Linked DNA regions of Homo sapiens. Each later gene encodes a partner of the first gene's protein in a complex. Each region holds a gene or a part of one and is shown in the gene's direction. Other genes may lie near its edges.

Evidence for each region.
Region 2: SNIP1 (region 1) and BUD13 share a complex: the UniProt entries of both Homo sapiens proteins name them as parts of the minor spliceosome.
Region 3: SNIP1 (region 1) and EFTUD2 share a complex: the UniProt entries of both Homo sapiens proteins name them as parts of the minor spliceosome.
Region 4: SNIP1 (region 1) and SRRM1 share a complex: the UniProt entries of both Homo sapiens proteins name them as parts of the minor spliceosome.

Annotation. Positions count from the first base shown.
Region 1 is NC_000001.11:37,537,290-37,544,315, reverse strand, and holds part of SNIP1 (smad nuclear-interacting protein 1), read left to right. Parts: intron 1-3,560; coding exon 3,561-4,159; intron 4,160-5,579; exon of another isoform or gene 5,580-5,627; intron 5,628-6,303; coding exon 6,304-6,568; 3' UTR 6,569-7,026. UniProt on the Homo sapiens protein: Required for pre-mRNA splicing as component of the spliceosome. As a component of the minor spliceosome, involved in the splicing of U12-type introns in pre-mRNAs. Down-regulates NF-kappa-B signaling by competing with RELA for CREBBP/EP300 binding.
Region 2 is NC_000011.10:116,762,988-116,770,013, reverse strand, and holds part of BUD13 (BUD13 homolog), read left to right. Parts: intron 1-4,567; coding exon 4,568-4,652; intron 4,653-6,747; coding exon 6,748-7,026. UniProt on the Homo sapiens protein: Involved in pre-mRNA splicing as component of the activated spliceosome. As a component of the minor spliceosome, involved in the splicing of U12-type introns in pre-mRNAs.
Region 3 is NC_000017.11:44,854,446-44,861,471, reverse strand, and holds part of EFTUD2 (116 kDa U5 small nuclear ribonucleoprotein component), read left to right. Parts: intron 1-928; coding exon 929-1,040; intron 1,041-1,426; coding exon 1,427-1,567; intron 1,568-2,290; coding exon 2,291-2,392; intron 2,393-4,314; coding exon 4,315-4,397; intron 4,398-6,467; coding exon 6,468-6,554; intron 6,555-6,789; coding exon 6,790-6,916; intron 6,917-7,026. UniProt on the Homo sapiens protein: Required for pre-mRNA splicing as component of the spliceosome, including pre-catalytic, catalytic and post-catalytic spliceosomal complexes. Component of the U5 snRNP and the U4/U6-U5 tri-snRNP complex, a building block of the spliceosome.
Region 4 is NC_000001.11:24,646,288-24,653,313, forward strand, and holds part of SRRM1 (serine/arginine repetitive matrix protein 1), read left to right. Parts: intron 1-379; coding exon 380-502; exon of another isoform or gene 503-2,571; coding exon 2,572-2,742; intron 2,743-3,683; coding exon 3,684-3,799; intron 3,800-5,121; coding exon 5,122-5,325; intron 5,326-6,146; coding exon 6,147-6,341; intron 6,342-6,625; coding exon 6,626-6,745; intron 6,746-7,026. UniProt on the Homo sapiens protein: Part of pre- and post-splicing multiprotein mRNP complexes. As a component of the minor spliceosome, involved in the splicing of U12-type introns in pre-mRNAs. Involved in numerous pre-mRNA processing events.

The DNA of each region.
Region 1 (7,026 bases):
TGCCACCGCGCCCTTCTAATTTTTTGTATTTTTAGTACAGACAGGGTTTCACCATCTTGGCCAGGCTGGTCTTGAACTCCTGACCTTGTGATCCACCCACCTCAGCCTCCCAAAGTGCTAGGATTGCAGGCGTGAGCCACTTCGCCCGGCCTCTTGTTTCTTTTTTTTTTTTGAGACGGAGTCTCTCTTTGTCGTTCAGGCTACAATGCAGTGGCTCCATCTCTGTTCACTGCAACCTCCACTTCTGGGTTCAAGTGATTCTCCTGCCTCAGCCTCCCGAGTAGCTGGATTACAGGCATGCGCTACCACACCTGGCTAATTTTTGCATTTTTAGTAGAGACGGTTTCACCATGTTGACCAGGCTGGTCTTGAACTCCTGACCGACCTCAAGTGACCTGCCCCCCCCCTTGCCCTCCCAAAGTGCTGGGATTACAGGCGTGAGCCACCATGCCCAGCCTATAAGACTTGTTTCTGCTGCCTCTCATGCTCAGTGGCTTGTTTCCATTTCCTTGTGTGTGTCTAGTATTCTTTAGTATTTGAGCTTATGCTTAGGGCTCAAATCTTTTTTTTTTTTTTACCCCCCTTTGGAGATTTTTTTTCTCATTGGAGATTTTGCCTTGCTTATTGAAAGCCCAACAGTGCATTAAAAATTTAATAAGTATCTAGTTAAATTATAGTGGGAACATCTCTCCAAGTAGCTCATCTGCCAAGTCTATATATAGAAATATGTGGTCTTATTGTGAAACTTGCCCCTTCTCTTTTTTCCCCTCCCATTTAACAATATATTAGATATCTTTCTATGTCATTATCTCATTCTTTTTCATGGCTGTGAAGTATTCCTTTGTATGAATAGATAATAATTTAACCATTCTACCATTGCAGGACATTAGGTTGTTTCCAGTTTTTTTTTTAAATTACGAAATTACAGTAAACACATTCATATGTATGTCTTTGTGCGTTTCTGCTAGTATTTCTGTAGGATTGATTTCTATAAGTGGCATTAGTGGTTGATGAGATTTTGATTAAATAATGTCAAATTGACCTAAATAGGCTATGCTAGTTTATACCTGTACCAGCAGTGGCTGAAAATACCCATTTTTCCTGTACCTTCTTTTTTGACTCTAGATATTATTGATCTTTTTAATTTTACTAATTAAGGAGAGAAAATTCATATTTCTTTTAGAATTTGATGCTTTGGTTATTAGGGTAAGCATATCTTCATGTATTTATTGGACATGTAATTCTTTTTTTTTTTTTTTCAAGACAGGGTCTCTGTTGCCAAGGCTGGACTGCAGTGGTATGATCATAGCTCACTTCAGCCTCGACCTCCTGGGCTCAAGTGATCATCCCACCTCAAATTCCGAAATAGCTGAGATTACAGGTGCATGCTGTCGTGCCTGGCTAATTTTTGTATTTTTTGTAGAAATGGGGTTTTGCCATGTTGCCCTGAGCTTAAGCAGTTCTCCTGCCTTGGCTTCCCAAAGTGCTGGGATTACAGGCGTGACCCACTGTGCCCGGCCCTTGGACATTTATTTCTTCTGAAAATTGTTCATTTTTCTGTTCTTTTTTTATTTTTGAGACAGAGTCTTGCTCTGTCATCCAGGCTGTAGTGCAGTGGTGGAATCTTGGCTTACTGCAATCTCTGCCTCCCAGGCTCAAGCGATCCTCCCACCTCAGCTTTCCGAGTAGCTGGGACTACAGGCATGCACCACTGTGCCCAGCTAATTTTTGTATTTTTAGTAGAGACAGAGTTTCGCCATGTTGCCCAGGCTGGTCTCAAATTCCTGGGCTCAAGCGATCCATCGCCTTGGCCTCCCAAAGTGCTGGGATTACAAGTGTGAGCCACTGGCACCTGACCATTTATCAGTTTCTCTGTTGAATTATTTCTTATTGATATATTAATATGCAGTAGTCTCCCCTTATCTGTGGTTTCACTTTCTGCATCTGAAAATATTAAATGGAAAACTCCAGAAAAAAACAACTCATAAAATTTAAATTGGTCACTATCCTGAGTCACTTGGTATAAACTTCTGCTGTCCCACCAGGAACGTGAATCCTTCCTTTGTCTGGTGTATCTGTGCTGTATGCGCTACCTGCCTGTCCATCACTTAGTAGCCATCCTGATTTTCAGAAAACTGTTGCAGTTTGCAGTGCTTGGATTCAAGTAACCTTTATTTTATTTAGTAGTGGCCCCAAAATGCAATAGTAGTGATTTTGGCAATTAGGAATGCTAAAGAGAAGCTGTAAAGTGCTTCCTTTAAACGAAAAGTTGAAAGTTCTCAACTTAAAGAAATTAAAACAAAAAAAAACTTTTCAAATCATATATTGAAGTTGCTAAGATCGATAGTAAGAATGAATCTTCTATTGTGAAATTGTGGAGAAGGAAAAAGAAATTCATGCTAGTTTTGCTGTTGTACCTCATACTGTAAAAGTTATAGCCACAGTTCACAAGTGCTTAGTTAAGATGGAAAAGGCATTACATTTATGGGTGGAAGACATGAACAGAAATGTGTTGCATTTGATGGCAGTCAGGTTCGGTACTATCCGTGGTTTCAGCCATCCACCATACTTAAAATGTATCCCCCTGGGACTACTGTATGGTTTGTGTTGCAAACATTTTCTACCAGGCTGAATTTTTTTTTTTTTTTTTTTTGAGAAGGAGTTTCACTCTTGTTGCCCAGGCTGGAGTGTAATGGCGTGATCTCGGCTCACTGCAACCTCTGCCTCCCAGGTTCAAGCGATTCTCCTGCCTTAGCCTCCTGAGTAGCTAGGATTACAGGCATGTGCCACCACACCTGGCTAATTTTGTATTTTTAGTAGAGACAGGGTTTCATCATGTTGGTCAGGCTGGTCTGGAACTCCTGACCTCAGGTGATCCACCCGCCTCGGTCTCCCAAAGTGCTGGGATTACAGGCTTGAGCCACCATGCCTGGCCTAGGCTGATTTTCATTGCTATCTTTTTCAAGAAATCATGGTATGTTTCTCCATTTCTTCACATCTTTAAAAAACATTTATTTTAATGAATTTTTACAGATTTCTTCTTATATGTCTTTCATGTTTCTTAAGTTTATTTCTAGGTATTGAATTTTTTTTTTAACTATGGAAGTAGGATTTAAAAACTTACTATTATATTTTCACTTTTGGCATGAGAGAAAGCTAGTTTCTTTCTTTACATATCTTGTACCTGACTACTTAACTCTTAGTTCTATTTTCTGTATATTCTTCCCTGTAAGTTTGCCCATAGTTACCTTTGTTCTGAAAAGGAGGGAATTATTTTTCCTTCTCCTTTCTGGACTAAATAGTCTCTTGTTTTTAGGGCTGTGGACCTGGACTTGTGCTATTAGGGCTATAGTTGAATAGCAGCATGGGATATCATCTTTGTGGCCTTGCGAGGGAACATAACCACCAGACATAATCTTATTTCTGTGGGAAATGTTGTTCTAAATGCCAAAGTCCAAATTACAAGACTTTTTGCATGCACTTCGTTCAAAAAGAACAAGATTTGGGCTGCCTTTAGATTGTGCACTGCGTTTAAATTACAGAATCTGTTTGAATTTTAGGAGCGTGAGGATCATCCCCGGAGAGGACGGGAGGATCGGCAGCACAGGGAACCATCAGAACAGGAACACAGGAGAGCTAGGAACAGTGACCGGGACAGACACCGGGGCCATTCCCACCAAAGGAGAACGTCTAACGAGAGGCCTGGGAGTGGGCAGGGTCAGGGACGGGATCGAGACACTCAGAACCTGCAGGCTCAGGAAGAAGAGCGGGAGTTTTATAATGCCAGGCGACGGGAGCATCGCCAGAGGAATGACGTTGGTGGTGGCGGCAGTGAGTCTCAGGAGTTGGTTCCTCGGCCTGGTGGCAACAACAAAGAAAAAGAGGTGCCCGCTAAAGAAAAACCAAGCTTTGAACTTTCTGGGGCACTTCTTGAGGACACCAACACTTTCCGGGGTGTAGTCATTAAATATAGTGAGCCCCCAGAAGCACGTATCCCCAAAAAACGGTGGCGTCTCTACCCATTTAAAAATGATGAGGTGCTTCCAGTCATGTACATACATCGACAGAGTGCGTACCTACTGGGTCGACACCGCCGCATTGCAGACATTCCAATTGATCACCCGTCTTGTTCAAAGCAGCATGCGGTCTTTCAATATCGGTAAGTAACATGGAGGAAGAAACTGTAATGTGAGCAGAAACAATCACTCAGTTAGGATTACTAAGATTTTTGTTCATGTTTATGCAGAAGAATCCCATACCCCTCATATGTTATCTAAAGAGTATTGTTAATCTAACTGCCCTTTAAATAATTGCTTACATATTTATAAGAACATTAAACTTTTAATCTATTTTTTATTTTTTTGTGACAAGGTCTCACTCTGTCACCCAGTCTAGAGTGCAGTGGAGCAAACACAGCTCACTCCAGCGGCAACCTCCTGGGCTCAAATGATTGTCTCCTGCCTCGGCCTCCTGAGTAACTGGGACCACAGGCGTGTGCCTCTGTGCCCAGCTAATTTTGAAACTGGATCTTGATAGCTTGCATGGGACATCTGTGATGATTCTCACAACAATCCTGTGAGAAGGATAGGATAGATTTTTTGTTTTTTGAGACGGAGTCTCGTTCTGTGCCCAGGCTGGAGTGCAGTGGCGCGATCTCAACTCACTGCAACCTCTGCATCCCGGGTTCAAGTGATTCCCCTGCCTCAGCCTCCCGAGCAGCTGAGAGTACAGGCACACACCAGCACACCCAGCTAATTTTTGTATTTTTAGTAGAGACGGGGTTTCATTGTATTGGCCAGGCTGGTCTCGAACTCCTGACCTCGTGATCCGCCTGCCTTGGCCTTCCAAAGTGCTGAGATTACAGGTGTGAGCCACTGCGGCTGGCCCGTTTTGTTTGTTTGTTTTTTAACATGGTCTCCTGACTTCGAATGGACACGTATTTGTATCCCCATTTGACAGATGAGAAGACTGAAGCCCAGCAAAACCAAGTGACTTGCCTAACAAATGATCACTATAGTACAGTGGTCCCCAACCTTTTTGGCACCAAGGACCAGTTTCATGGAAGACAGTTTTTCCATGGAACCGGGGGAATTCGGGATAATTCAAGTGCATTACATTTATTGTGCACTTTATTTTCTAATACTATCACATTGTAATATATAATGTAATAATTATACAACTCACCATAATCTAGAATCAGTGGAAGCCCTGAGCTTGTTTTCCTCCAGCTTGATGGTCCCATCTGGGGGTGATGGGTGACAGTGACAGATCAGGCATTAGATTCTCGTAAGGAGCGCGCAACCTAGATCCCACCTGTGCACAGTTCACAATAGGGTTCATGCTCCTACGAGACTCTAATGCCACTGCTGATCTGACAGGAGGCGGAGCTCAGGCAATGATAATTCAAGTGATGGGGAGCAGCTGAAAATATAGATGAAGTTTGGCTCGCTTGCCTGCTTGCCCGCTGCTCACCTCTTGCTGTGTGGTCCGGTTCCTAACAGGCCACGGACTGGTACCAGTCCATGGCCCAGGAGCTGGGGACCCCTGCCATAGTAGAACTCTGGCTCAAATATAGCTCCCTTGACTCTGAAGTCCAAGTGCACTGTTTTTTCCCATTTGGACAGGAACTAAAATATATTGAAATATAGGTTAAAGAAACATTATGTTGATTATAAACAACAGAAAAAAATGTATTTTCTTAACCACAGCAAGAGACATTGGATTCTGCATTTCCACCTTTTGATCTACCATGGATTCTCCCCACCTTCCAGCAACTCATTCTCACCTTTTTTTTTTTTTTTTTTTTTGAGACAGAGTCTCGCTCTGTTGCCCAGGCTGGAGTGCAGTGGCGTGATCTCGGCTCACTGCAACCTCTGCCTCCTGGGTTCACGCCATTCTCGTGCCTCAACCTCCCAAGTAGCTGGCTCCACAGGCGCCCGCCACCATACCTGCCTAATTTTTTTGTATTTTTAGTAGAGACGGGGTTTCACCATGTTAGCCAGGATGGTCTCCATCTCCTGACCTCGTGATCCGCCCGTCTCGGCCTCCCAAAGTGCTGGGATTACAGGCGTGAGCCACCGCGCCCGGTCCATTCTCACCTTTTCTAAGTATATTTAAACTTCCAATTTTCCTTCCCAGGGCCATGCTTTCCCCTTGATTTCTTTGATTCCCTAGAATTTTAACTTGAATTGTGCTCAAGCCAGGTTATTTACGTCATCTAGGCTATCTTAGCAAAGAGCTTTAGAGAAGCTGGATGATCTGAGGCAGAAGTTTGCTCACAGGTTTCTCCTTTTTTTCTGCTAGGCTTGTGGAATATACCCGTGCTGATGGCACAGTTGGCCGAAGAGTGAAGCCCTACATCATTGACCTTGGCTCAGGCAATGGAACCTTCTTAAACAACAAACGTATTGAGCCACAGAGATACTATGAACTAAAAGAAAAGGATGTACTCAAATTTGGATTCAGTAGCAGAGAATACGTCTTGCTCCATGAGTCGTCGGACACTTCTGAAATAGACAGGAAAGATGACGAGGATGAGGAGGAGGAGGAAGAAGTGTCTGACAGCTAGCAAACTAAGAACCCAAACTATTGATACACGGTTTCCTTCTTGGAAGTCTTTGATTGACTCAGAGAGCACTATGGTGGTGGGTCCAGCACTATGGTGCTCTCTGTAATGCCTCTTACTGCCTTAAGTCTTTCCTCTGTTGCTGACCAGATTGTGTTACCATTTGAATACACTGACTAATGTTTGTTAAACTTTTTCTGTGGCACCTTGGCCACATGCCTGCAGGCATTTGTTTTCAGAACAGTCTCACCAATTACAACACACCGTGTTTTAGTAGAAGTGTTGTGGTTTTAGTTGGTGCTTTCAGAACTGCTGCCTAGGAAACTATAAACCCTTGGTTAAGGGGAAATCATGGCTTGTTCTCTTTGTACAGTTACTTTATTTATATAGGTGTTAAGCTTTGTGGACCAGGTGTTTTTCTTTTGGGGCGAACCCCTGAGCAGAGAATCTTACTAGGCTTT
Region 2 (7,026 bases), on another chromosome or scaffold:
ATGATCTTGGCTCACTGCAACCTCCGCCTCCCGGGTTCAGATGATTCTCCTGCCTCAGCCTCCTGAGTAGCTGGGATTACAGGCACCCGCCATCATGCCTGGCTAATTTTTTTTTTTTAATTTTTGTAGAAATGGGGTTTCACCATGTTGGCCAGGCTGGTCTTGAACTCATGACCTCAGGTGATCCACCCACCTTGGCCTCCCAAAGTGCTGGGATTACAGGCGTGAGCCATTGTGCCAGGCCAAGCTTCTCAAATTTATTTTTCCAGCTTAGGGTAGATTTGTAGGGGGGTTAGTTGAGAACAGAAAAGAGGTGACAGTTTCCAAAGAGCTGTTTAAAATAGTTTTCTTTGCTGATGCCTATACACCAACTTGTCTCTTTATGGAGGGTCCATCAGCCTAGAAATGAGATGGATCACAGAGAGAGGACTTCTCGACATCAGTGTTAGAGTAATGATGAGACTTAGCTGTGGTTCATTTTGTTGGAATCTTTCTTAAAAACAATGCTGAGGTTCAGTTATAGGGAACTTTTTATTTGCTCCTTTTTTCAGTGCTTTAACTAAGCTTTCAAATTGTATATTCTTGCCTAAGTACTGGAGATATGTAGATTAATAGAACATAGCTGTATTTTAGAGATTATACCCTAGAATGAAAAACTGAATTTCAGATAAATTTCAACAGTATGGTAAATGTTGGGGATGTTTCACATACGTACCAAGTACCATTAGAGCCCGGGGAGGTAGCATACTTTGTATTCTGTTGGGAGATATCCTGAAAGATGTAAATACTGAGTTTTGAAGGGTAAGTAAGAGCCAGGTGGACAAAATCATAGGCAAATGACCTCCCAGTGGTTCATGAAACCATTGCTGAGAATTTCTGAGAAACAAAGTGGAAAGGAGAGCTGTAGATAGGCTGAATTCCACTAAAGTTGGTAAAGATGGATTCCAGTGAGTATTTAATATTAATTCCCAGCAAAATTCTTTTTTTTTTTTTTTTTTTGAGACGGAGTCTCACCGTGTTGCCCAGGCTTGAGTGTAGTGGTATGATCTCGGCTCACTGCAAGCTCTGCCTCCTGGGTTCACACCATTCTCCTGCCTCAGCCTCCTGAGTAGCTGGGACTACAGGGGCCCACCAACACGCCCGGCTAATTTTTTGTGTTTTTTTTTGTATTTTTAGTAGAGACAGGGTTTCATCATGTTAGCCAGGTTGGTCTTGATCTCCTGACCTCGTGATCCGCCCACCTCGGCCTCCTGAAGGGCTGGGATTACATGTGTGAGCCACTGCACCTGGCCAATTCCCAGCAAAATTCTAAAATAGATTATTTAAAAGAGGGCTTGCTAGTAATTAGAAGGGAAATAGTGATCTTAGGGAGCCAATTTAGTTTTGGTCAGAAGAAGTAAATATTAACAATGTTTGTTGTTTTTTTTTAATTTTATAAAAGCAATGCATATTTATTACAGAATATTTGGGAATTAAAAAAAGTTTAAAGTTTTTAAAAGAATAAACACTTGCATGTTACCATCCAAAGATAACTGCTAATACTTGGATGCATATCTCTTCAGGTTTTTCTCTTTAGAGATTATACACGCTTGTATTTTATTTTTTTGAACATAATTGGGATCATATTGTACATAGGGTTTTGGAGTCTACTCCTCTGCTAAATAATATGTTGTGGATACTCTGGTAAGACCTTAAAATATTCTTTGAGTGTATGATTTTTAACGGTTATGTAGTAGTTCAATATATATATTTTATCTGTTCTGTTACTGGATACATGGATTGTTTCCACTTATAAAATATCATACATCGTTGTACATAAATCATTTGTAGAAATCAGTTTATTTCTTTATTCCCATAAAATGAAATGAGTGGATCAAAGGGTATGGTTCGCTTTAGTTATATTCCCATGTTGCTTTCCAAAAGGTGCTACCAATTTACACTCCCACTAGAGGTGATGAGAATGCCAGTTTGCCTACGTCGTCAATATTAGAGCACTATTATTATTATTATTATTATTATTATTATTATTATTATTATTTTTGAGACAGGGTCTTGCTCTGTTGCCCAGGCTGAAATACAGTGGTGTGATCATGCCCCATTGTAGCCTCTACCTTCCAGGTGCAAGCAATCCTCCTACCTTAGTCCTGCACGTAGCTGGTACCACAGGTGCGCACCTCCATGCCTGGCTAATTTTGGGTATTTTTTGTAGAGATGAGGTCTCTGTGTTGCCCAGTCTGGTCTTGACCTCCTGGGCTCAAGTGATCCTCCTGCCTAGGCCTCCTAAAGTGTTGGGATTACAGGTGTTAGCCACATGCCCCACCAATATTGAAGGATTATTAACAAAACAAAACCAATAGCAAACCTATGCTGATTTAGCAAGTGAGTAATGGTATCCAGTTTCTTTTTTTTTTTTTTTTTTTTTTGGTGGAGTCTCACTCTGTTGCCCAGGCTGGAGTGCAGTGGCGTGATCTCGGATCACTGCAAGCTCCGCCTCCCGGGTTCACGCCATTCTCCTGCCTCAGCCTCCCGAGTAGCTGGGACTACAGGCACCTGCCACCATGCCTGGCTAATTTTTTGTATTTTTAGTAGAGATGAAGTTTCACTGTGTTAGCCAGGATGATCTTGATCTCCTAACTTCATGATCTGCCTGCCTCGGCCTCCCAAAGTGCTGGGATTACAGACGTGAGCCACCGTGCCTGGCCCAGTTTCTTTGAACACTAGTGAAATGAATCATTTTTTATATGTTCATTAGGCTTATGTTGTGGGTGTATTTTATCATTTGCCTTTTCACTTAGTTCATAATTGTTTTTATTATTTTTTTTTTTTGAGACATATTCTCACACTGTCACCAACGCTGGAGTGCAGTGGCTCAATCTTGGCTCACTGCAGCCTCTGCCTCCCAGGTTCAAGTGAACCTCCTGCCTCAGCCTCCCAAATAGCTGGGATTACAGGCGCCTGCCACCATGCCCAGCTAATTTTTGTGTTTTTGGTAGAGACGGGGTTTCACCGTGTTGCCTAGGCTGGTCATGAACTCCTGGGCTCAAGCAATCCACCCGCCTCAGCCTCCCAAAGTGCTAGGATTACAGGAATGAGCCACCGCACCTGGCCATTTTCTTTTATAATATTGTCTTGCTTTTATGATGGCCCAAAAACCTAAACAAAGGAGGCTTTAGTGCCACTGCTCTCTGCATTGGTTAAAACAGATCTTGATTACTGAATTCATTTTTGTAACTGCAAGATCACCACCACCACCAGTAATAATGGTAAAACGATTATGATGATTACGATAGCAGTGGCAGCACAGGAATAATTAATAGGTGTCATTTATTGGGCATTTATCATGTACCAAGCATGGCTAAGCTTACGTGAATTATCTCATTCAATCCTTATAGCAATCCTTTGAATCCCACTTTTACAAATGAGGAAATTGAGGCTTAGAATAATTTACCAAAGGTTACACAAATGCTAAGTGGCCGAGCTGGGGTTTAGATCTTAATTCATCTTGCCCGAAACCTGTGCTTTTAACGCTCAGTGAGAGATCTCAAAACTGGGTTATATGAAGAATGATGGTAGGATTTTGGGAGAAGTAGAGGGCTATTATGACCTGGATTTAAATTCCAGTTCTGCCACTTGTTAGCTTGTGACATTGAGAAAGTTACTGAACTTCTCCGAATCAGTTTGCTATTCAGTAGTGTGGAGCCTTTCTTTACAGGATTATTGTGAGAATCGAGTTAGATTATATGAGTAAACCACAAAACACAGTACCTTGCACATAGTTGCTACTCTGTAACTAGGATTTATTATGCCAGCAATCTTGAAAGTTTGTCATGTGGACTTACATCACAGGTCAGAACTAGAATGAATTCAAAGAAGTTATAGGAAGGCAGATACGGTACTAGTAAAACTAAGAACTTTCTAACATTTTTGAAAAATGCAGTGGACTGTGTTGTAAGATAATGAGTTCCTTGTCAGGAAGGGATTGGGCGAGTGACCACTTATTAGGAATACTATAGAGAAGATTCTGATTTGTTCAGAAGTTTAGAAGATATGAAATGTGGTTTTAGCTCTTAAAGATTAATGATTCTGTGTACATCTCAGTGGCTCTTTTTGGTTGTATTCAAGAAAACCTATCACTGTGACTACCTACAACAAGAAAGGATTCATAGAAACCCAAAGTCCTTGATTAGTGCTAGGCATGATGGGGGGAGCCACCTATGTTTCCACTGTTAATGTAGAAGTAAAAGTGTAAAAGGAATTTAGTTGTTAGTTTACAAGTGGCTGTTGTGTACCTAGCAGGTTAATAAAAAGGTTTGTAATGAAAAAAATTAACCTTTGCAGGGTAATTGATTAATTAGAGAAGGATCTACAATTAAACCAATACAGTGACAATCAGATGTTTATGGAGCAAACATAACTGAAGACCCCTACTTACTTCTTCATGACCATTTTGGATATATGTACGCCCTTGTGTTAGGAATCGGAATGGTTGTAACTTCAGGTTCTTGAGACAGTGCTTCTTGGCTGGATCCTGTGGATTTCCTAAGATAGGAAATCTTTACTCTCACAGGTGGCAGAGTTTGTGGATGAGCGGCCAGAAGAGGTAAAGCAGATGGAGGCCTTTCGTTCCAGTGCCAAATGGAAGCTTCTGGGAGGTGAGTTCCAACAATAGATAAATCTAAATTTCCATTAGTAGGGGAGATCTTTTTTCCTTTTCTATACTTTTCTTTAGAGGAATGCATAGTTTGTTTTAGCATGTCATTGATCCTGAAAAATAAAGCAGGAAAAAGGAAGTTGGACTTCTTCAGAGGTAGTAAGACATAGGAACTTATAGACCAGATATTCCTCTTTCTCTTATATTTTGGCATTAGGATTACTGAGGTTGGTGACTAATTTGGAGGCCTTTGAGCACCCATTCCTCTTTGACTCAGAATAGGAGAGCACTTGGTGTATAGGCAAGACTTTGGGAGGAGTTTACAAGAAACAGGAGCAGAATTTGGGGACTTTAGCTACCACTATCCTCTTCCACAATGAAGCAACTCATTTCTGGGGGGTCAAGGACCAGTGTATTTTGTTCTGTTTGTGTTAGTAAATTTCTCTCTTCTTTCCTTAAGTATTGGTGTTTTATAGTGCATTACCCTCCACTTGCCCACTTTGGACTCTTCCTAAGCTAATAATCTTAATTTAACTCTCTTTAAAAAAATTTGAGTCCTTGAGAATTGGATAAAAAGCATTTGTTTGTCACATCTGTTTGAGCATAGACTAGTCTTATTTGCCATGATATTCCCCTATCTAGCACAAGGAGCTACCTTTAATAAATATTTGTAGAATTGTTTAATTGCTAGTAGGTATTTGATTTTTGTAGCCTAATCAGAATTCTTTTCCAAAGAGAATCTTTTGGTCTCCATGTCTGTTTGTCTAGGAAGACACACAGACACACACATACACACGGTGCCTTTTCTTGTGTATCTGAATGTTTAGAAGGTCAGTCACACACACACACAGTCACACTCACACTCACTCACTCCTTTTCTTCTGCCTTGCTTTCACTCCCCCATCCCAATTTGTTATTGGAAGTACGCTTACCAATCTCTGACCCTTGCTTCCTTCAGATTTACTGTTAGGCCCCCCACAGACATCATACTTTTCTCTGTGGAGTGGATTCCAATCAGATAGGGCTGTTCCCCAAAGTAAAGGAGTTGACTTGGTTTAATTCATCCATTTAACAAGTATTCATCAGTTCCTACCCAGCTTTTATTTGTATTTGGGCTGTGGAGCTCAATGACAAGAAATAGAGGTAGAGGAAGAACTGGATTTTGAAACTGTTCCAGTTGCTATAGATATTTCATTCTGTGGTGCCTTTGAATATGGAAGGTCTCAAACTATGTATTTTAACTTTAAAGCTTTACATATTTTAAAGATTGCACATGGACTCTGGAGTCAAATAGAGCTGGATTTAAATATTCCTCTACCACTTATTAGCAATATGACTTTGGCAAGTTAATCTTTCTGAGTATCAACTTCCTCATCTATAAATGAAATGACAGTATTTATGTCCTAGGCTTGTTGTGAGAATTGAATCAGGTAATCTCTATGAAACACTGGCACACAGTAGGTGATTGGTAATTACTTGCTCCTTTCTTTTTTATGGTGATTTTTCCCCTCTCTAAGAAAGAGCACAGTGAAATGGATTAAATAGTTAACAGCATTTTATTTTGATATTCACCGTTTTAGTCAATTTACCTATTGAAAGAAGAGTGAGTACAAACTATAAAGTATCTAGGCAAAATATCAGTAGGAGCCACTAGCTGGGAACTCTGCACAAATGAGGTTTTAGAAAGAACATTGGACTGGGAGTTAGAAGACTTGGATTCTAGCCTGTGTCTTCATTTTAGGAGCTGTGACCTTAGGTAAGAAATCACTCAGCTCCTCAGCTGAAAACAGAGGCTGTGGCCTCTGTTTTCATGCTGTAATACAAGGGTACCTGCCCTGCTTACCTTAAAGGGTATAATATGAAAAATGTGCTGAAAATGCTTTGCAAATTTATGACTTGGTAGGCGGAGGGGTTATTCTTAAGATATTCATGAGTGGTGGTTTGCTGCCCCTAAGCAAGAAAACTGTGCAGGCCTTTTGGGCTTTCTGAGCAGTTCTGAGGTATGTGCTACTGGAGCATCTTTTGAAACTGGGTGTGGGGGTGGACAGAGGGACAGAGCATTTGTGGGAATCTGACTCTTTGTTATTTGTGTTTAGGCCACAACGAAGACCTACCCTCAAACAGACATTTTCGTCACGATACCCCGGATTCATCTCCTAGGAGGGTCCGTCATGGTACCCCAGATCCATCTCCTAGGAAGGACCGTCATGACACCCCGGATCCATCTCCTAGGAGGGCCCGTCATGACACCCCGGATCCTTCTCCCCTCAGAGGGGCTCGTCATGACTCAGACACATCTCCTCCCAGGAGGATCCGTCATGACTCCTCAGACACTTCACCCCCAAGGAGGGCCCGTCATGATTCTCCAGATCCTT
Region 3 (7,026 bases), on another chromosome or scaffold:
GTGAGCCACCGCTCCCAGCCTTTTTTTTTTTTTTTTTTTCTCTCTGTCAGCCAGGCTGGAGTGCAATGGCGTGATTGCGGCTCACTGCAACCTCTGCCTCCCGGGTTCAAGCGATTCTCCTGCCTCAGCCTCCCAAGTAGCCAGGGTTATAGGTGTGCACCACCATGTCTGGCTAATTTTTTGTATTTTTAGTAGAGATAGTTTTCACCATGTTGGCCAGGCTGGTCTCAAACTCCTGACCTCAGGTGATCCAGCCACCCACCTCAGCCTCCCAAAGCACTGGGATTATAAGCGTGAGCCGCCACACCCGGCCTTCTTTGATGCTTTTGCTAGCCCCTTACAGTCGACACCTTGGGCAGCTTTTTACCATGAGCCTGCAATTGGAATAAGATTTTCCTCTTATGTCCTCACAGAAATACCTTGTACTTTTCTTTCATAATGCCCATCAGTTTGTAACCACATACATGTGTGGATAATGATTGTTTACTGTATCTCTCCCCTGCTAGAATGTATCTGTTTTGCTCACCCCTGCTCTTGGCACGCAGCAAGTACTCAGTAAATTTTTGTGGAATAGGCTGGATGTGGTGGCTCACACCTGTAATCCTAGCACTTTGGAAGGCTGAGGCAGGAGGATTGCTTGAGCTCAGGAGTTCAAGACCAGCCTAGACAACATGAAAAAACCCCGTCTCTACAAAAATACAAAAATTAGTTGGGCATGTTAGTGTGTGCCTGTAGTCCCAGCTACTTGGGGGGCTGACGCAGAAGGATCACTGGAACCTTGGAAGTTCGAGGCTGCAGTGAGCCAAGATTGTGCCACTGCACTCCAGCCTGGTAACAAAGTGAGATCCTGTCTCAAAAAAAAAAAAAAAAAAAAAATTAGGGAATGCTCTGCCTAAGTTTCACTGCTGCTTATTGGACATTGCTTCAGGTACCACATCGAGGTGAACCGTGTTCCTGCTGGCAACTGGGTTCTGATTGAAGGTGTTGATCAACCAATTGTGAAGACAGCAACCATAACCGAACCCCGAGGCAATGAGGAGGTAGAGTTTCTGAAGAGACCAACTGGGTTGGCTTAAGCTAGATGGTCCCAGGGACACACATGAGCACAAACGGGACTAATCCACAGTCATTGCCATGTCCTGGTTTCAGGCTTAGCCTTCTAGATATGACCCTGCTGGATTCTCCCTGTACTCAGTTCAGATGCGAGGAATTAGGACGGGTGCCTTTTATTATTTTCCTCCTCTCTTTGTTCTGCCAGAATACCTGGGAAGAAATGGCCCTTCAGGTTACCCCCACTCAGCACCAGGCTCCTGGTTGGGGAATACATAGTCTGATCCTAAGCAAGTCCTCTTCTCTTCTCATACCTCTGCACTTTCTGTGCCTGCTCATGCCAGTTGCCCTCAGTCCTTTGTGCTTTGGATCTCAGGCTCAGATTTTCCGACCCTTGAAGTTCAATACCACATCTGTTATCAAGATTGCTGTGGAGCCAGTCAACCCCTCAGAGCTGCCCAAGATGCTTGATGGCCTGCGCAAGGTCAACAAGAGCTATCCATCCCTCACCACCAAGGTATGCCCATGGCCTGCAGCAGCCGCCAAGCCCCACTATCCCCAGCTGAATGGGCAGAGCTGCACACCGCTTCCCATCCATCAGGTGTTCATGATCTGCTGCTTACAGGAAGCTGTGTCAGGAGCAAGCCCAGCCTATGGCTGTCATGTCAAGGCAGGACAAGACACGTGTGTGTGTGTATGTGTGTGTGTTAAAACAAGACCTGTGTAGGAGGGGGCAGTGATGGGGGGTATAGGACAAGGTTGTGTGTGTGTGTGTGTGTGCGTATTTGTGTTCCGCAGATGTCTTTATCTAGACAAAAATACATTTCTTAATGAGTATACTTTGAATTGATTTTCTCGAGAAGAGAAGGAAAAGTGAGTTGTTACTCTGATCCTTGTACACTATGAGCCTGCCAGTGTACCTTTCCAGGTAGCAGGCCAGGAGGGCTAAAGGGCTAGCTTATGTCCATGGGTATAGGGTAGAGTTTGACCTAAATCATTAAGATGGGAATTAAATCATTGACTTCACACCTAGTATCACCATGCTGAGTGGTCCTGGTGTCTTGAGGACCCACTCATAGGCAGATGCTCCTCACTGAACCTTCTTGAAGAGGCTGGAACAGATGCTAAGTAGTAGCTGTTTCTGATAGGCAACTTCTTGTCTGCTCTGGCCTTGATTTTGTTTGTGTGTGCCTTTGCTGGCATAAGAGAATCCAGGCTGTGACTGCCTGTTGTGTTTCAGGTGGAGGAGTCTGGCGAGCATGTGATCCTGGGCACTGGGGAGCTCTACCTGGACTGTGTGATGCATGATTTGCGGAAGATGTACTCAGAGATAGACATCAAGGTACAGCAGTATCTGCCGGGAGCTGGGTTCACGGTCCAGACTTTTCACAAGTGACCAAATCCTTGAATTCCTGGGAAGCTCCAAGGGAAGAGAGAGTACATGTGTTTGTGAAAACCATGATCTGTTGCTCCTTATATGGGAAGGTTTTTGAGAACTGGTTTGCCCCCTTCTGCTGTGTCATACGTTTAAAATCAAGGCTCAGCCGTGCTTGGTGGCTCACTCCCAGCACTTTGGGAGGCCGAGGTGGGAGGATTGCTTGTAGCCAGGAATTCAAGACCAACCTGAGCAACAAAGTGAGACACTGCCTCTACAAAAATTAAAATAAAAAAAATAGCCAGGCCGGGCATGGTGGTCCGTTGCTGTAATTGCAGCACTTTGGGAGACTGAGGTGAGAGGATTGCTTGAGCCCAGTTTGAGACCAATCTGGGCAACATAGTGAAACCTCGTCTCTACAAACCAGCCCAGTGCAGTGGCATGTACCTGTAGTCCAGCTACTGGGGGGCTTAGGTGGGAGGATCACCTGAACCTAGACTGTCAAGGCTGCAATGAACTGTGATTGTGCCATTGCTCTCCAACCTGAGCCTAGGAGGTCATGGCTGCAATGAGCAATCATTGTGCCATTGCTCTCCTTTTTGAGATGGAGTCATACCCTGTCTCAAAAAACTAAAAAATAAAAATTAGTCAGGTGTGGTGGCTTGCACCTATAGTCCCAGCTACTCCGCAGGCTGAAGCAGGAGGATTGCTTGAGCCCAGCAGTTCGAGGCTGCAGTGAGCTACGATCATGCCACTGCACCCTAGCATGGGTGACAGAGCAAGACCCTGTCTCAAAAAATAAATGCATTGAAAAATAATAAAACAGGCCGAGCACGGTGGCTCACGCCTGTAACCCCAACACTTTGAAAGTCCAAGGCGGTTGGATTGCTTGAGGTCAGGAGTTCAAGACCAGCCTGACCAACATGGTGAAACTCTGTCTCTACTAAAAATACAAAAATTAGCCAGACATGGTGGCGGGCACCTGTAATCCCAGCTACTCAGGAGGCTGAGACAGGATAATTGTTTGAAACCGGGTGGCAGAGGTTGCAGTGAGCCAAGATCGCACCATTGCACTCCAGCCTGGGTGATAGGGCGAGACTCTGTCTCAAAAAAAAAAAAAAAAAAAGGAAAAAGAAAATAAAGGCTCCCAAGCCAAAGTTATTCTTGGTCCTTTGTTAGGGAAATAATTGCACAATTAAACAATTAACCCATGGGTGGTGATTAGGTCTCAGAGTGGGTGGTTTCAAGGAGAGGGTGGGGACTGTCTCTCCCAGATTCTTTGTCAAGCCTTGATGTAGCCCCTCAAACCATGTGTTGCTTGGCCTCCTTGTCCTAGTTGAGTCGTATTTTCTCCAAGGCCCTGTGGAGGACCCTCAATACCCCTCTTAGACTCCTCTACTGATGTATCTAGGAAGGAGGAAGGATTGGTGTCATAGAAAACACTGGGTTTCCTGGGCAGCAGACCATGTTGGGGCTTCAGGGCAGAGCTTCACTCAGATGCTGTGGGTTGAGAATGACATGGGTGCACGCCAGTGGGTCTCAGCACCAGCTCTGTCAGACCCATGGGGGTTGTTCAGTGAATGGTGGTAGATGGCTGAATGGATGCTGAGAGCTACCTTTGAAGACTAGAATTAAGGCCCTAGTTTGATACCCCACTTACTCTTGGCTCAGGAATCTAATTTCTTTACTACAGTAAGTTTTCTTGGGCTTTTTGGTGATGATTTGGACAGCTCTTTTAACCTGCTGTTGTACTTATCACTTGTGCTGATTAAGGCAGTTGGGGTTTTCACAGAGGTAGTGTCAAGGGAGCTTCTGAATTCCCTTAGGTAAATGGTTGCCCTTCCAACAAAATTAGACCTCGCTTCAGTAATTTATTTTCTGTTTCCCAGGTGGCTGACCCAGTTGTCACGTTTTGTGAGACGGTGGTGGAAACATCCTCCCTCAAGTGCTTTGCTGAAACGCCTAATAAGAAGTAAGCTGGGAGCACAGTGTCCCTGGGACTGCAGCCTCCTGGACACTCTCTCTCCTTTATCTTCCACCTCTACCCCCACCATGAGCACTATGCACATAGAGACCTCTACAGCTCAGAATAGGGGGTGCTTACAATACTTGAGTTTCACTCCAGCCCTCTCAGCCCTTCTGCCTTTGAACACAATGACATGGGATTATTCGCCTTGGGTATTCCCAAGAGGAGTTTCATAACTGCCACTTTGTCTCTATAAAATGACTATCTTAAAAGTTTACTCCAAATCTTACTCACTTTTTGTTTTTTTGTTTTTTTTTTTTTTGACACAGGCTGGAGTGCAGCCTCAACTTTCTGGGCTTAAGCAATCCTCCCAAGCAGCTAGGACTATGGGCACACACCAGGCCATCTGTTAATTTTTTTATTTTTTGTTGTCCAGACTGGTCTTGGACTTTTGGGCTCAAGTGTTCCTCCCATCTTGGCCTCCCAAATTGTTGGGATTACAGGTGTGAGCCACCATGCCCAGCTTAAACCTTACTTTTTTTTTCTTTTTTTTAAGACAGTCTCGCTCTGTCGCCCAGGCTGGAGTACAGTGGCACGATCTCGCCTCACTGTAGCCCCTGCCTCCCAGGTTCAAGCAATTCTTGTGCCTCAGCTTCCCCAGTAGCAGGGATTACATGCACGCACCACCACACCTGGCTAATTTTTTGTATTTTTAGTAGAGGTGGGGTTTCGCCATGTTGCCCAGGCTGGTCTCGAACCCCTGACCTCAGGCAGTCCGCCCGCCTCGGCCTCCCAAAATGCTGGGATTACAGGCATGAGCCACCACGCCCAGCTTAAACCTTACTTTCATAAAGACCAGTAGATTGAAATGAAAGAAAGATGAGCCCTTTGCCCTTTTTGCTCCACCTTGCCCCTGATACTGTGGCTTTTTTTTTTTTTTTTTTTTTTTTGAGACAGGGTCTCACTTCGTCACCCAGGCTGGAGTACAGTGGTGCCACCATGGGTCACTGCAGCCTCAACCTTCCGAGCTCAAGCGATCCTCCTACCTTAGTTAGCCTCCCAAGTAGCTGGGACTACAGGTGTGCTAACCACACCTGGGTTTGTTTTTCTTTTTTTTTTTTTCTTTTGAGACATAGAGTCTCACTCTGTAGCCCAGGCTGGAGTGCAGTGGCTCGATCTCAGCTCACTGGAACCTCTGCCTCCCGGGTCCAAGCAATTCCCCTGCCTCAGCCTCCCGAGTAGCTAGGACTACAGGGAGTGAGTGTCACCACACCCAGCTAATTTTTGTATTTTTAGTAGAGATGGGGTTTCACTGTGTTGGCCAGGCTGGTCTCGAACTCCTGATCTCATGATCTGCCTGCCTCAGCCTCCCAAAGTGTTGGGATTACAGGCATGAGCCATCGCACCCGGCTGGCTAATTTTTTATAGAGATGGGGTCTCTTGCTTTGTTGCCCAGGTTCTGTTTGTTTGTTTGTTTGTTTGTCTGGGGTTTTTTTTTGTTCTGTTTTGTTTTTGAGACAGAGTCTTGCACGGTCGCCAGGCTGGAGTGCAGTGGCACAATCTCGGCTCACTGCAACCTCCGCCTTCTGGGTTCAAGTGATTCCCCTGCCTCAACCTGAGTAGTTGTGATTACAGGCATGTGCCAGCGCACGCCACCACGCCCAGCTAATTTTTTGTATTTTAGTAGAGATGGGGTTTCACCATGTTGGCCAGGGTAGGCTCGATCTTCTGACCTTGTGATCCGCCCACCTCGGCCTCCCAAAATGCCGGGATTACAGGGGTGAGCCACCGCGCCTGGCTGTTTGTTTTTAAGAGGCAGTATGTTGCTGTATCACCCAGACTGGAGTGCAGTGGTGTGAGCCATAGCTCACTGCAGCCTCAAATTCCTGGGTTTCAGTGATCCTCCTGCCTTGGCCTCTCAAAGTGCTGGGATTACAGGTCTGAACCACCACGCTTGGCCCCTGTGGCTTTCACTGATGTCACTTCCTCAGCTGTCCGTCTTGTTACCCTTTTCTTAGTAATGCCTCTTCTGCTGTTCTGTTAGCCGTCCTTACCACCCATTTCCATTCTGACCAGGAACAAGATCACCATGATTGCTGAGCCTCTTGAGAAGGGCCTGGCAGAGGACATAGAGAATGAGGTGGTCCAGATTACGTGGAACAGGTGAGAACAGGGCTCTGACGCCAGGGTCGAAAGGAGGCAGGGATGCCACAGTTTAACTGCCGGGTCTCTAAGAGCACACATCTTTCTGGGGAGCATTTATGTCTTTGCCTTTGCTCTTGTTCTGGGCACAGTGGGTAGGATGAAGTGACTGTCTTCCAGGAAGGGAGGGTCTGTGGCTCCAGGACCAGCAATCACAGAGCTGGCTGACAGCTCCATTGTCTCCTCCCTTCCCCAGGAAGAAGCTGGGAGAGTTCTTCCAGACCAAGTACGATTGGGATCTGCTGGCTGCCCGTTCCATCTGGGCTTTTGGCCCTGATGCGACTGGCCCCAACATTCTGGTGGATGATACTCTGCCCTCTGAGGTACAGCAGAACTGATGGGAACTGGGTGGCGGTCTCTTACCTCTGGAGTGGAAGAAACTACAAAGTGTTCTTTTCCCAAAAGTATCTTGTGTCCTCTGGTGAAGGACAGT
Region 4 (7,026 bases), about 13 Mb from region 1:
GAGGCCGAGGCGGGCAAATCACAATGTCAGGAGATTGAGACCATCCTGGCTAACACGGTGAAACCCTGTCTCTACTAAAAATACAAAAAATTAGCCGGGCGTGGTGGCGGGTGCCTGTAATCCCAGCTAATTGGGAGGCTGAGGCAGGAGAATGGCACGAACCTGGGAGGCGGAGCTTGCAGTGAGCTGAGCACCACTGCACTCCAGCCTGGGCAAGAGTGCAAGACTCTGTCTCAAAAAAAAAAAAAAAAAATTAGCAGATTCTACTATGCCAAACAAAAAAACTAAGCTAAAAGGAACTTTGGTAGACAGAACTCTAACTTGAGCATTTTTTTTTAGGATTGTGAAGTTGTACTTAATTGTTTCTATGTTTCATCAGGTGGACATGAGCAAAGTAAATTTGGAGGTTATAAAGCCTTGGATAACAAAAAGAGTAACGGAAATCCTTGGGTTTGAAGATGATGTTGTGATTGAGTTTATATTCAACCAGCTGGAAGTGAAGGTACTAATATACAAATGGCTCTTGTTTCTGAATATGTGATATAATTTGTGAATCTTTGGAAACTGAATTTTTTCTATGGAGTGCAAATATAGAAGGGTTATTTTACAATGTTTGTTGTGAAAAGAATTCACTTTGTAAACAACTATTAAGGCTGGAAGTTTAGTGAAGGTGCATAGTTTTGAAAGCTACACAGGTGAAAAATCAAACTTATTGTTTGTAATTTTGCTGTTACATGTTAAGTTACTTTGACAGCAATTTTCTAATGATAATGTGATTTATGATTTAAAAGGCCTGAACCAAAATGGAAGTTATTCCTTGCGTCTGAAGTATAGCACCATCACCTTATTAGGTCACAGCAGAGTGAGTGTCCCAATGTCGCTCTGACCCAACTCCCTTGATGATGCAGTGTGTGTTTGGAGGTGAGTTGTGTAAAGTGGCCAAACATCAACAACAACAACAAAAAACACAAACAGGAAAGAGCAATTGGGTAAAGCTGTACACTGCTCTTTTAAAATACTATTATGAGATGGACATTTATGTGAAGCATGAGGGGCAATTCTGATTTGATTGGATATTGTTTTTAAAGGAACTAAGGTCTTTGTAGCTGCATGTCAGCTAGTCATCAGTTACATTTTAGAGACAGGATTTTTGTTTATACTTAAACTTCAGACAAATTGGCAGCATATAATTGTTCCTTTATACATGAGATAATATGATGATATAACTGATGTTTAAGAACATTCTTATTGTAAGACAGTTTCTGTTTTGCCACAGCAACCCAAAGGACAGTTAAGATATGTACCATATGACCTTTTTGCATATATACCAATGTGAATTTACTTTTACATTAATCATTTCCCCCAAAGAGTTCACCCTATGTTTTGACAGAACAGTTGGCATTTCAACTGATAAGGTATTTCTAGTTTTAAAATAATTTGGTGTTTGTATTTTGTTTTGAATATTTTTAAAGACTAATTTTAAGAATGCACTTTCTATAAAGTATATGCATCTTAGAAAACCAGGAACAGGGGAGAAAGTTTTTTAAATGATGATTGAAGATAGATTTTATTGGAGAAATGCTTTACTGATGTGTATTTTAGTGCATTTTAAAAACCTAAGTATCTGGTAGTATTCCCCTTGTAGTGAGCATGAGATTAAAGTTTAGAACTTTTTAAGACAATTCTTTTTTTGTGGTTGTGTACTCATTATTGCTTGTTCGTCTTTTGCAATTTAGATAAATGATATAACATTAAACTCAAGGTGGTTGAGTTGCAGTAGGGAGTCGGAAGCAAGCCAAGGGAACATCTTTCTCTACAGGGGACTTGGCGATTCCAAACCCCCAAGGTTCCAAGAAGAAACTGAAGACACCTGGAATCTGTACTTGCTTTGTGCTATTGAGCTGTGCTTGTTATACAGACCTTGTTGCTTGACCAACGGATTTAGCATTTAAAAACCCAATTATTTTTGAGAAATCTTGACCTCTTAGCACTTTGTGGACAGTTGAGAATTTGAGGCATTGTTATAATAGATTTTCCTTATATAAAACTCAGGCCTTTAGCTTAGCCCTCAGAAGTTACAGACTGCATGCATAACTTGTTAGTTTTCATAACTGGACAATAGATATTTTATGCAAAGCTATCTGTAGTGTTAGGGAGCAGTTTATGTACTTTTTCCGTTTCTCATTGGGGGAAAATTTCCAGGCAAGCAAATACTTTTCTTGTTAGTAAATACTAGAATTTGTGGATGTTTCATGATGGTTTTTAAAGTTAATAAATGTAAGGCCCACTAACAGCCACAGAGTCTAAAAATACTTACGAAATCCACAAAGGATTAACAGGCTGCTCTGATGCTTTTGGTAGAGTGAGAGAGAATTTGGTAATCTGTTAGAGATTATATTGCTGAGAAGCTACTAGGGAAGACTATTTGTAAAATAGTAAGGACTATATATATGTCTAAGCCCCTATGGTAGACTTAAAAAATACTAATTTAAATGAGTTTTAGGTTGGTTGATTTGTTGGTTGGTTGGTTTTGAAGTAACCTGTTTTTCTTCCTGTCGTGTCTTTTTGCAGAATCCAGACTCCAAAATGATGCAAATCAACCTGACTGGATTTTTGAATGGAAAAAATGCTCGAGAATTTATGGGAGAACTGTGGCCCCTGCTGCTAAGTGCACAAGAAAACATCGCGGGAATCCCTTCTGCTTTCCTAGAACTGAAGAAAGAAGAAATAAAACAAAGACAGGTAATAACCTTTTCTTTTCTGTAATGTCGATTTGAGAGTATTGGCCAGGCTGCCGAGACACCTTAGGTAGTATATGACTCAGCTAGGATCTTCATGTAGTTTTGCTTTGCTGTACTGTATTTAAACATTCAGTTTTGGTTCACTGCTCCTCCCTCCAACCAAACATTGAGTTTAGAATGTCATTTTCCCAGTCTAGTGATTTGCTAGATTTTTACAAATTCTTAATATGTGAGTGCATGTAGCTTAAAAGAAATTTGAATTTAACACTGAAAGGTAAGCATAAGGATTTTTGGTTTGTTGTTTTTTTGAGACACAGTTTCAGTCTGTCACCCAGGCTAGAGTGCAGTGGTGTGGTCTCTGCTCACTGCAGCTTTCACCTCCTGAGTTCAAGCGATTCTCATGCCTCAGTCTCCTGAGTAGCTGGGATTACAGGCGCACACCACCACATCCAACTCATTTTTGTATTTTTAGTACAGACGGGATTTTGCCATGTTGGCCAGACTTGTCTCGAACTCCTGACCTCAAGTGATCTGCCCGCCCTTGGCGGGATTATAGACGTGAGCCACCGTGCCCAGCCAGCATAAACTCTTAATATGGGCAATACAGATGAACTCCCAGAAAGAATAAGGTCAATGTGAAAGTGATTTTCTTTTTTATTTTATTTTTTATTTTTATTTTTATTTTTTTGAAGTAAGCTTGAAAACATCTCTTTAGTTCAGGTCTTAGAGATTAACTTTCAGTGAATATTTATTTGTAAATGAGTGGCGATAATACCAGTCTTAATGCGTATCTGTAGTGTAGGTGAAGAAAGAACAGGTCTGGTTCAAAAGAAGAGGCCGATGAAATGATAATAGCATTGGTGTTTAACACACGTAGAAAGTAGTCTTCAGTTTGTTCTCAAATGTTCAACTATGTGTATTTTGAAAACCTGGTCTTTGCAGATTGAACAAGAAAAACTGGCATCTATGAAAAAGCAAGATGAAGACAAAGATAAAAGAGATAAGGAAGAAAAAGAAAGCAGCAGAGAAAAAAGGGAGCGGTCTCGTAGCCCAAGAAGGTATCATACAATAGATGCATAACTGATGTTTTACAGGTACTTTAGGTCTTAAGAAACTTCCTTAGTTAAAAAGGAATCTAACAGCGCTATTCAAGGAATTTGTTCCATCATGCAGTTTTCATGGTGACCTGTGCCTTGCCTCTGGACTAAAGAAATCTGTCATATTTTGTTTGAGACAGATAATTTAGCCATGAGTGTCTCGCAGATGTTCATAAATTATCCAACTCTAAATTCCTAAATCAAAACTTTAAACTTTTTCTTCCATATTGCTTTAGTTCATAACAGTTAATTTGGGTTTTTAAAAATGTACTCTGACTCACTTTTTCTTTCCATTTCCTTTCTTCTAAAAAGAAATCTGTACTCGAAATCTGTACTCATTAGCCGTTCATGTAATACTTACCTAATTCCCTGTTCTGCTTTTCTTAGATGGTTGTACTGAACCCAAACTTCAGATCATTTATTTGTTTTCTTCTTCCAGTGAGACTATTGTTAGGTTCACATTTTTAAATCCACGGCTCAGCTTCTATATTTGTGGTGAAAGGTGAGAACTCCATTAGGCTTTTTATTTTTAGGGTTCTGCTTATTTCTTTCATAAATGTCTGCTGGAATTAGTAAAGAGAAGAGGTAATTTCTTTGTCCCTTTCATTTATATATTTGATACTAAAATCTCCTTATGGAAGTAATATTTATAGAGCTAAGCACAAATTGTCATGGTGGTAACTACTTGACTATTGATGAAGTATGTCTGCCATTTTCCTTCTGTGTGAATAAGAGAAAAACCCTTCGAGTTAGGCAGGCTACTGTTAAGAAAGAGGGCTTCTCCTCTCGCAAAAAAGCTATCTTCTGGATGTTTGATGTATATTTCTCTTTTCTGAAGAACATGTTGCTTTAATGGTATTAGTCATTTTTCTGGCATACTGAGGCTCTTCCTGATGAACTCCATTGTAATCTGTCCGCATCTAAATGTTTTATGTTTGGGAGTTTGATTTGTTGTCAAGGATTATCATTGTTTGCTTTAAAGCATCCTCTTTGCCTCTGAAAAGTTGGTCTTTTGATCTCTGGGAATGATTAAGAACCTAAGTCTAGAGTCCCAAGTTAGTGCTTTTCTCCCTTATAACTGATATACTCGAGAATGTTATCTTTCATTTGCTTGTCTTTCTCTTCCCTGTCAAGTAGATTAGGTTAGCATGTCTTATTTCCATAGGGAAACATCTCAGATATAAACAGTAGTGTAACTAAAGATTAATCCTCACTTCTCCCTTTGACTCCTCTCTTCCAATCCATGTTATTTAAAAACCTGAAAAAAATTACTTTCATCCTAGACGCAAATCCAGATCTCCTTCCCCTAGAAGACGATCTTCCCCTGTCAGGAGAGAGAGAAAGCGCAGTCATTCTCGATCTCCCCGTCACAGAACCAAGAGCCGGAGTCCTTCCCCTGCTCCAGAAAAGAAGGAAAAAACTCCAGAGCTCCCAGAACCTTCAGTGAAAGTAAAAGAACCTTCAGTACAAGAGGCTACTTCTACTAGGCAAGTATATAAAAATTCATTTATAAATAATCACAATTTTAGATTAATAGTGACTGCAAATATGACATCTGAGTTAAAATAAAACTACTTATTTTCCTTTTAGATTTTTTAAATTATAAAATTAGTTTGTTGAAAAGAAATTGTTTAGGAGAGTATATTAGAAGAAAATGCCCCAGAGGGTGACCATTACTATCTTTTGGTTGTATTGTTTCAGGTATTTTATATATTGTAACTTGCTTTTTTTCCTCAACGTATTGTGGACAACTTCGCACTTTTAAGAAATGTATGTGGTTGCCAGATGCGGGGGTGCATGCCTGTAATCTCGGCACTTGGGGAGGCTGAGGTGGGTGGATCGCTTGAGCTCACAAGTTAGAGAGCAGCCTGGGGCAACATGGTGAAACTCCATCTGTACTAAAAATATATATATATATATATATATATATATATATATGTACACACACACACACAAATTAGCCGGGCATGGTTGGCACATGCCTATAGTCCCAGCTACTCAGGAGGATCACTTGAGCCTGGGAGGTTGAAGCTGCAGTGAGCCAAAATCATGCCAGTACACTCCAGCCTGAGTGACAAGAGTGAGACCCTGTCTCAGAAGAAGAAAAGAAAATGTACATGGTTGGAATTATTAGTTGCTCTCTGGGTTTCAGTGATAGGTACATACATACTTATGTGTCTTTTGGAGATAGAGACAAGTCTGTGAATTTTGAAAAGTTTTAGAAATACTTTATTACATCATTGTGTAATGATTTAGAAGGCTGAGTACAAGAAGGCAAAAAAAAAAAAAAAAGCTTTTGTTTCCACAGTGACATTCTGAAAGTTCCCAAACCTGAACCTATACCAGAGCCTAAAGAACCTTCTCCGGAAAAAAATTCCAAAAAAGAAAAGGAGAAGGAGAAGACCCGACCACGATCTCGGTCACGCTCCAAATCAAGATCCCGGACGCGGTCCCGCTCTCCTTCTCACACTCGACCTAGACGGCGCCATAGATCCCGATCAAGGTGAGTTGTGGCTTTAAGATCAACAAAGATCTTAGGTTTTATATACTACTCTACTGGGTACAATTAGATAAATAATTTCAAAGTGGTAGAAGATGTTTAGTACAAATATTTTTTGAATGTACACAGAGAATTTGAGGACACTTTTCTGTGTACCATAAAAATCTACATAAATGGAAAATTTTGATCTTTGAAATTTATTTTTTAGATGTGGCCATTGAGAAAACTAAGCCAAGAAATTCCTCACTCCTGGTTTATTCAGGACCTAATTCTCTTTGTTATGGCAGATCGTATTCACCTAGAAGGCGGCCAAGCCCAAGAAGGCGGCCATCTCCTCGAAGAAGAACTCCGCCAAGAAGAATGCCTCCTCCACCAAGGCATAGAAGGAGTAGATCTCCAGTAAGACGGTAAGATTTTTTAAATTTGGAAGTGTCAAGTGTTTGACACTTCTGGATAATCTTTCTTTTAGGATAATCTGTAAATTAGTGTCCCCTGGAAGAAAGAACTGATAGGTGATATTAGACAATGTCTTCTAAAGAGTCTGTTTCATTTGAAGTGTAATGCAGTTGTTCGTGTTATGAAAAGTGTCTAGTCTGGTGTTGGAAAGTAAACGAGAAATTCATCTTATTGATACTTTTCTGTTAACTTTTACCCTTCTAGACTTCACCAAGAAATCATACTAAGTAAG